Linked DNA regions of Homo sapiens: region 2 is linked to region 1. The links come from fine-mapping of genetic effects on gene expression. Tissue or cell type: whole blood. Region 1 holds a variant in brackets; the other region holds the start of a gene. All regions are shown on one strand. Distances are between the middles of the regions.

The links. PIP is the estimated chance that this variant, and not a neighbour inherited with it, causes the effect.
Region 2: it holds the start of C8orf33, and the variant in region 1 is fine-mapped to the expression of C8orf33 in whole blood (TOPMed, PIP 0.91).

Annotation. Positions count from the first base shown.
Region 1 is chr8:144,971,400-144,975,557 of GRCh38, forward strand. It overlaps the pseudogene ZNF252P. Among named protein-coding and RNA genes, the nearest start is that of ZNF16, 23 kb to the left of the region's middle. The variant C/T (reference allele first, on the strand shown) is at 2,165.
Region 2 is chr8:145,050,427-145,054,584 of GRCh38, forward strand. It overlaps C8orf33 (chromosome 8 open reading frame 33), which reads left to right and starts at 2,041. Exons shown (of 5, transcript NM_023080.3): 1 at 2,041-2,071; 2 at 2,160-2,471; 3 at 2,636-2,720; 4 at 2,871-3,017; 5 at 3,592-4,158. The coding sequence starts at 2,066. The coding sequence ends at 3,731. RefSeq lists enhancers at 1,467-1,596, 1,637-1,686, 2,615-3,415 and a silencer at 1,897-1,966.

The DNA of each region.
Region 1 (4,158 bases):
GTCGATGACTGTTGTGCTGATCCAAGTCAGGTGTCTGTAAAGGCTTAATGACTCACTGATACTGATAAAGACTTTAGTGGGCGGTCTACCTATTTCAGTCCATAGTCACCATCATCATTACTCAGGGTCAAAACCTCTATGGTCAAACCATTCTCATTACTGTTGTGGCCCTGGGCCTGTTACAGTGACAACTTCCCTGTCTATGACAGGGTTACATGCTGCCATCTGGTCCTGACCATTCCCACTGAGTTAAATCCTCTTTTCTTTCTCTTCTTTCTTTCCTTCTCTTTTCTTTCCTTTTTCTTTCCTTCCTCTCTTTCCTTTCCCCTTTCTTCCTTCCTTCCCTTTCCTTTTTCTTTCTTCCTTCTCTCTCTCTCCCCCTCCCTCCCTTCCTCTTTTTTTTTTTTTTTTGAGGGGAGTCTTGCTCTGTCACCCAGGCTGGTGTGCAGTGGCGTGATCTTGGTTGACTACAGCCTCCATCTCCCAGGTTCAAGTGATTCTCCTGCCTCAGCCTCCCGAGTAGCTGGGATTTACATGCACCTGCCACCCTGCCTGGCTAATTTTTGTATTTTTAGTACAGACGGCATTTCACCATGTTGTCCAGGCTGGTTTCAAACTCCTGACTTCAAGTGATCCACCTGCCTTGGCCTCTAAAGTGCTGGGATTACAGATGTGAGCCACTGCGCCCAGCCTAAATCCATTTTCATAACAGTCTCTCCTACTTCCTTTGATAGACTATATAAAACAGCCACTACAGAGTCTTTCCTGGACGTTACTATTCCCTCATCAATGCACTTCTCTAAGCCTGGGTGAAAGGAGTGCCCTCTTGCACCTCCTGAACCTTTGAATCCATTCTCTGTTGTAAAATCAGGCAATTCTGCATGTCAGCCTCACTCAATGGAGGCCATGACCAAATATAGACTTCCATTAACAAGCTGCTACTGCAACTAGCACAGTGAATCCACAGCCTGCCATGTGTGCACTCATATAACAAACCCAGTCCAATCCAACATTACATTATCTCTAGTTGAACAGCCTTAGAATCTGCTCCCTTTCATATCACCCACACTTCTGCCAACAGTAAGCTGGAAAAATCTTCCAATTATTTGGCACTCTCTCTCTCAGGTCACACTTTTCCCTCATTTCCCAGGTCTCCTGGAGTTTCACTACAGGAAGCAATCAAAGTTGGTCGATATTGGGAACAATCCACACTCCCCTGCAAAGTGACAGCTTTAAGAATAATGTGTGTAGCTGCAGGTAATTGATTTTGACGTAGTTTTCTGCTATATTATACTTACAATCAAACTTCTTTTCTCCCCCTCTCCATGAACACTGGACTTGTTTTTTTTTCTTTTTTTTTTTTTGTTGCTATTACAGGAACAGCTGCTATTAAACATTTTGGGACACATCTTCTAGTTCTCATGCAAGTACATCCCCAACATGTATGTGCAGGAGTGGAACTGGGTTGTGGGTTACATAATTTTTTTTTTGAGACGAAGTCTCGCTTTGTCGCCCAGGCTGGAGTGCAGGGGCGCGATCTCAGCTCACTATAACCCCCGCCTCCCAGGTTCAAGCGATTCTCCTGCCTCAGCCTCCTGAGTAGCTGGGATTACAGGCTCCCACCACACCACCTGGCTAATTATTTTAGTAGAGACAGGGTTTTGCCGTGTTGGCCAGGCTGGCCTCAAACTCCTGACCTCAGGTGATCCACCTGCCTTGGCCTCCCAAAGTGCTGGGATTACAGGTGTGAGCCAGTGCATCTGGCCAGGGCTAATTTTTAACTGTATTAATAATGCCAAAATATTTTCCAATGTGTCATACCAATTTCCACTCCTATCAGCCGCGTATGAGAGTAACTGTTGCTAAATATATTTGGTGTCATTCTCTGTCAGATCTTTAATTTTTGCCAACCTAGTGAGGGTAAAATGACATCTTGTAATATCATTTTGCATGTCTGTGATTAATAATGACCTTTGCCCCTCTTTTCATACAGGTTGGTCATGGGAGGGTTTTGGGTGATGAAGAAGCCTTGGCAGGTTTCGTGGCAGAGAAAAATCCAACTAAGTCATGCTGCCTGGAGAGTCAGGGCCTCATAAATTGGGATTAGAGGCAGGAGTTTTAGTCCTAAAGATCTTACAGATTCCCAACCATACAAAGTGCCTCC[C/T]ACCTTACATGAAAATGGGCAATAATGGAATCCACTGATTACATTTTAATGTTTGTGAATACACATATAAAACACACATTAACCTTAACAATTGGTGGGGAAGATTGGCAGCACAGGACTATGCACAACAAATTAGCAGGCACTAAGGCAGAATATCTTTTACAGCAGAAAGACCAAATCTGTCCCTTTCTGATGCACATCTTCAGTTTTGGGTCATGAGCTAGTGGTGGAGGTCAAGGCCAAGGTCAACCTAAGAAGTCTACAATAGCATGCATCAATGGAAATGCTGCAGAACAAACATGGAGGAAAAAGTAAAAATGCTCTTGTAACCATCAACACCTGCAAATATGCCACTTACTCTTTTTCTCTTGTGAGTGCAGTGAGCATGACTAAACACAGTAGCTCTCTGGGAAGAGCAAGAATAAAGGAGTCTTCAGAATGAGTTGTAAGATATGTATGATGCTTACAAAGTGGAGTTCACAATTGTCCTGTTTAATGTCAGTCTCCTTATTTTAAGAATGCTTCAGGTGACAAAGGCCTGTGTCAGCAGTATGGATCATGATGAGATTCCTGGAAGGCTGAACCTCTGCTGGTACAGGCATAAAACTCCTCCAGAAATGGCTTCTTTTTATTAACTAAAGAAACTGAAAATGCCTTTCTCCTCTCAATTTTAATGTAAGTGGTTAAGAAGCCAGGAGAGGCCGGTGTGGTGGTACACAGCTGTAGTCCCTGCTACTCATGAAGTTGAGGCAGGGGAATCACTTGAGCCCAGGAGTTCAAGGTTACAGTGAGCTATGACTGCACCACTGCACTCCACCCTGTGCAACATGATACAGCATGATACTGTCTCAAAAAAAAATGCTAGGAAGTACCAAGTGTATGATTGCTCTATGCCAATCATCAAATAGAGCAGAGACCATCTAGCTCCCAACCAATATTAATGCCATCACCAAGCCAAGTAATTAGGAAACAGAAATTTGACTTGAATAGAGAACATTAAAAGCCATGATAAATAAAATTCAGTATGATTTGGATGAAATATTTAATGGAAAATAAAAACATATTCCAAACTGATAAGGTTAATCTGGAGAAATGTTTTAGCCATAAAACCCAAAACCGGATTTGAGTAAATACCGAGGTTCTTAGTTAAGTAAACACCTCCATCTTATGTAAACAGGTTTAAAACAAAAAAAATATTATTTTCTGATTTGGTTGTGTAATCGTGGGCCTCAGAGGAAAAGCTTCCTAACCCTTTTGTCATATATATATATATTTTTTGGAGTCTTGCTTTGTGGCCATGCTGGAATGCAGTGGTGCAATCTTGGCTCACTGCTACCTCCGCCTCCTGGGTTCAAGCAATTCTCCTGCCTCAGCCTCCCAAGTAGCTGGGACTACAGGCGTGCACCACCATGCCCAGCTAATTTTTGCATTTTGTAGAAATGTGGTTTCACCATGTTGGCCAGGATGGTCTTGATCTCTTGACCTCGTGATCTGCCCACTTCAGCCTCCCAAAGTGCTGGGATTACAGGTGTGAGACACCGCGCCCAGCCTCCTTTTGTCATCTCTTGATGGAACCTCAAAGAAGAGATCCTTGGGGGAAACTGAATTTCTTTTTGCTTCCTTCTTAAAAGTTCTTCTCTAGAAGAAGTTGTAACTGGGTAACAAGCTCTAAGTCCCTGGATCAGCCTGCAGGCAAGAGAGCTGGGTGAATTGACATTTAAGTTTTGACTTAACTTCAGGAGATTAAGGTTTCCAGCCACCTCAGGAAAAGCCATGAACTCTGTTCTTGCAGTGTAACATAGCTATCTGTGATGGGTAAGTGAAGCCATAAGCCACAGGCTCCCACCCTTGGACATTTTCCTGATTTTTCTTCATGACAACATATCTAGAAGACCCATCTACCAAATCCTGTTTAAGTAAAATGTACAATTTCCCATTTTGAATTAGTTGGATATATTGGGCCAGCTACAAGACTGCAAGCTCCTTGCTGGCAG
Region 2 (4,158 bases), 79 kb after region 1:
TCAGTAGAGAATTTCCCCTGCAAAGAGCATGTACATTTTGATTTTACCTGTCCTCAGACTGACCTTTCGCTCATTATAATAGTAAAAAACAGAGCCCTGGTTGGAGGTTTAAGATGCTAATAAGACATGTGACATGTACGAACAATCATATACCAGCATGTAGAACAAGCATTGTATGACAAGAAGCATTGTATGAACAAGCATGTAAGAACATACAGCTACCGCACATGTGCACTCAGAGGACCATCCAGAACATACTCACTAGTAGCACCTCTTCCCAATTCCTTATGAATAATCATGTAAGACCCCCATAAAGGGAGTCTCCCTCATGCGTCTTTGCTGCCCCAACCTTATGAGCAGCTGGCCCTCAATCCTCTCTCTCTCTCTCAGGGTGTACTGTCTATTGTTCACTTAACTTTCCAAATATTCTTTCTCCTTTGTAATAAATTACTGTATGCCGCATCTCCTTTACTGCGTGTCCCGTTTAAATTCTGCGTGTTTTTTTTTTTTTTTTTTTTTTAGATGGAGTCTCGCTCTGTCACCCAGGCTGTAGTGCAGCGGTGCGATCTTGGCTCACTGCAAGCTCCACCTCCCGGGTTCATGCCATTCTCCTGCCTCAGCCTCCCGAGTAGCTGGGACTACAAGTGCCCGCCACTATGCCCGGCTAATTTTTTGGTATTTTTTAGTAGAGACGGGGTTTCACTATGTTAGCCAGGATGGTCTCAAACTCCTAACCTCGTGATCCGCCCGCATCGGCCTCCCAAAGTGTTGGGATTACAGGCGTGAGTCACCGCGCCCGGCCAATCCGCCGAATTTTGGGAGTAATGTATCACACTGCAGTAAATAACTATCAGTGATGACCAAACTGTAACCCTTCGAGACCTTGCAGACCAGGCAGCTAACACTTCCCACCCCACCGTCTCAGGAAACACCGCTTTCCACTCCTGTGTCCCCGAAAGGAATCATCAGACATCTCGGACTCTTACCTTCTCAAGCAACACAACCCACCCTCCTGGCATAGCCCGTTGCCCCCCTGAAACCCTACTCAGCCTCACCTCAACCCCTACGCAATTCCTCTCGGTTGTCATGCCTCCATCGGCGGGGGTCGAGTGTTGTGTGTGACCCCAGGTCTCTAGCAAGGTATAGTGGGAGGGAAGCATCCAGGGGAAGAGAGGTGGTGGGATGGGGCTCTCCCTCTCCCCCATACCGCCACCCTCCCTCACGTCCATATCCTGTCCAAGGCTCTTCCCGCGTCTGCTTCTGAAACCCCTCCACGTCCCTCCACCCCATGTGCCCCACTCGTTACACAAGAGCAGAGAGATCTGCAGAACATACGTCTACGATTATGCCACTCTTCAGATTTACATCTTGCAGCGACTTCCCACTGCGTTAGAACGGAAGTAAGCCCATGACGGGGGCCCTCCCAACTCTCAGACCTCACCCGAGCCTCCACGTCCCGAGACGCCGGCCTCTCAAACGACCGCGCCCTGACCCTCGCTCTTCCCCATTTCCCAGGGTCTTTGCCGACCACCCTCTTGCGCCGTAGCTGCTCACGTGCTGTTTACTTGCTTTTCCCTCCCCACCAAAAGGTGAGCCTTGAGAAGACACACCCTCGTGGAGAGCTTTGAACTTTTATCCGGAAAGGTGCCGGGCACGTAGTCAGCGCCCGCGATCACTCGCTCACAAGGGTTCTTCCGAGACCCCTCTTCAGCCTCTTCCCCGAACCCCCAGGCCCCGCCCCAGCCCCATCTCAGCTTCGTCCCAGGCGCGTCCCAGCTTCGCCCCGTCCCAGCTTCATCCCACCCCAGCCGCGCCCCGCCCCGCCCGCTCCCCGCCCCGCCCGCGCCCCGCCCGCGCCCCGCCCCGCCCGCGCCCCGCCCGCGCCCCGCCCGCGCCCCGCCCGCGCCCCGCCCGCGCCCCGCCCGCGCCCCGCCCGCGCCCCGCCCGCGCCCCGCCCGCGCCCCGCCCGCGCCCCGCGGAACCTAGAGTCGCAGGCGCGTTCTTGAAGGACGGAATTCGGCGTCGGACTCTGCGCCCCGCGTAGTTCCGGTGGCGACTGCGGCGCATGGCGGTGAGCGGTGTGGAGAAGACGCGCGGGTGGCTGGGCCTTGCATTGTTGGCGGCTCTCGGTGACCCTCGTGCTACCCCCCTTTCTCCAGGCCCTGGGACATCTTGCTGGGGAGGCAGCGGCGGCCCCAGGCCCGGGTACTCCCTGCGCGTCCCGCGGAGCCCGGCTTCCCGGCCCAGTTTCCAGCGCCCGGAATCCTTCCACTGTCTGTCTCTGCCCAGAGCAACCTACGTGCAGTAACGCTGACTCCAGAGCGCACCCGTTGGGCGATGAAGGCGGCACAGCGTCGAAAAAACAAAAGAATAAGAAGAAAACGCGGAACAGGGCCTCTGTGGCAAATGGAGGCGAGAAGGCCTCAGAGAAACTCGCCCCAGAAGAAGTTCCCCTAAGCGCTGAGGCCCAGGCAAGGGCGGGCTTCGGTCGGGAAGGGTGGAATCCACGGGTGCGAATCCACGGGCACGTGTGATCTGGGGTCCGCGGAGTTAAGGCGGGGAGGGGCATGGGATGGGGCCGGCGGCTATGGTTTTCCAGTGCCCTCTCACAGCCACTTCCCCAAATCCATCACAGGCACAACAGTTGGCCCAGGAATTGGCTTGGTGTGTGGAGCAACTGGAGCTGGGCCTCAAGAGGCAGAAACCCACCCCGAAACAGAGTAAGGGACCCTTCTGTAGAGCTGGGGGATGTGAACAGTGGCACTGCCTGGCCTGCAGGTGCTGGCAGAGTATGGAGTTGTTGGCTTTGCGGCGGGGTGGTAGGAGGTCAGTAATAGAGGTGTTCACTAGTCCTTTATTTTTATTCGCAGAAGAGCAGGCTATTGGAGCAATCCGAACCCTGCGCAGCAAAAGAACGCCCTTGCCCCGGAAGAGGCAGCTGATGCACTCCTTGTTTGGAGACTATAGGGCTCAGATGGAAGCCGAATGGCGTGAGGCCCTGCGGGCTCTCAGAGCTGGTGAGGAGCTAGCCACTGGTTGATTCAGGAAGGCCTAACTTAAGGAGGAAGTGTCTAGGGGGTGAAAGGAAGAAGGCCCAGAGCAACAAGCCTGGTGGGGGAAGGAGATGGGCTCAGGGAAGCCTGAGGGAGCAGGGAAACAGAAAGCGTGGACCTCTCTTTCCTCTTCCTAGGACTGAACCTGGGAAGCAGCGGGGAGGCCCTGGGAGGAGTGGGAAAGAGCATGGTCCTATGTTGGTCCTGCTCCTGGGTTGGGGAAAGCTGCCTCATGTCTTTGTGTCTTGGCTTTCTCTACTAGCAATGAAGCCATATCCCATAACAGTTTGAGTGCAATTCCTGGGGCCAGATCAGCTAGGTTCAAATCCTGGATCTACCACATAGTAGTACTAACACCTTTTGCAAACTACTGAACCTCTCTAAGTGGGGGATGATAGTAATATCAACCTTACAAATTTGAGGAATTAATCAGTTAATTTATGCAAGGTGGTTAGAATTGTATGGGCAAACATAACTGTACAGGTAATGTTAATTGTTATTATTCAGTTCTGACATACGCTGCTTCTCTCCCCGACAGCTGCTTATTCAGCCCAGGTGCAACCTGTAGATGGAGCCACCAGAAAGAAGAGCCAAAGGGTCTGCAGGCCTCGCTCTATATGGAGAGCCAAAGCCACTCTGGACATGCCTGATGAAGAGTTTAGGTTCAATTTCTTTTAGCGTCTCCCCGAACCTGAAACAATCCCCCTCCCTTGGGGTGGTGTAGGGGTTTGTTTTGAGTGCAGAGCCTTTCCAGGACTTCTGTTGTCAGAGAACCCTGGAGTTGGTCTGTCCCTGGCTGGTCCAAGGATTTGTAGCTGTTGTGAAGGTGTGAGACCATCAGATAGGCAAAAGACCCCGTTCGTTTTCTGATGAAATGTTCTCTCTTTCAGAAGAGAGAGAGAGGTGCATTTAGAAAATATGCAATAAATTGAAGTGAGTGTTCAAAGTATTGTAGAAGGAATATTGTACTCAGTCTTTAGGATTAGATTAAGTGGCTGTTGGTAACAAAGATTAGTGGAGAAGCTGTATAATCGTACACTGGTTTTCACTTTTGAAAGGAATCCCTGTCAAATGGTTTAGTGCTTAATGCTGTTATGTCATATTG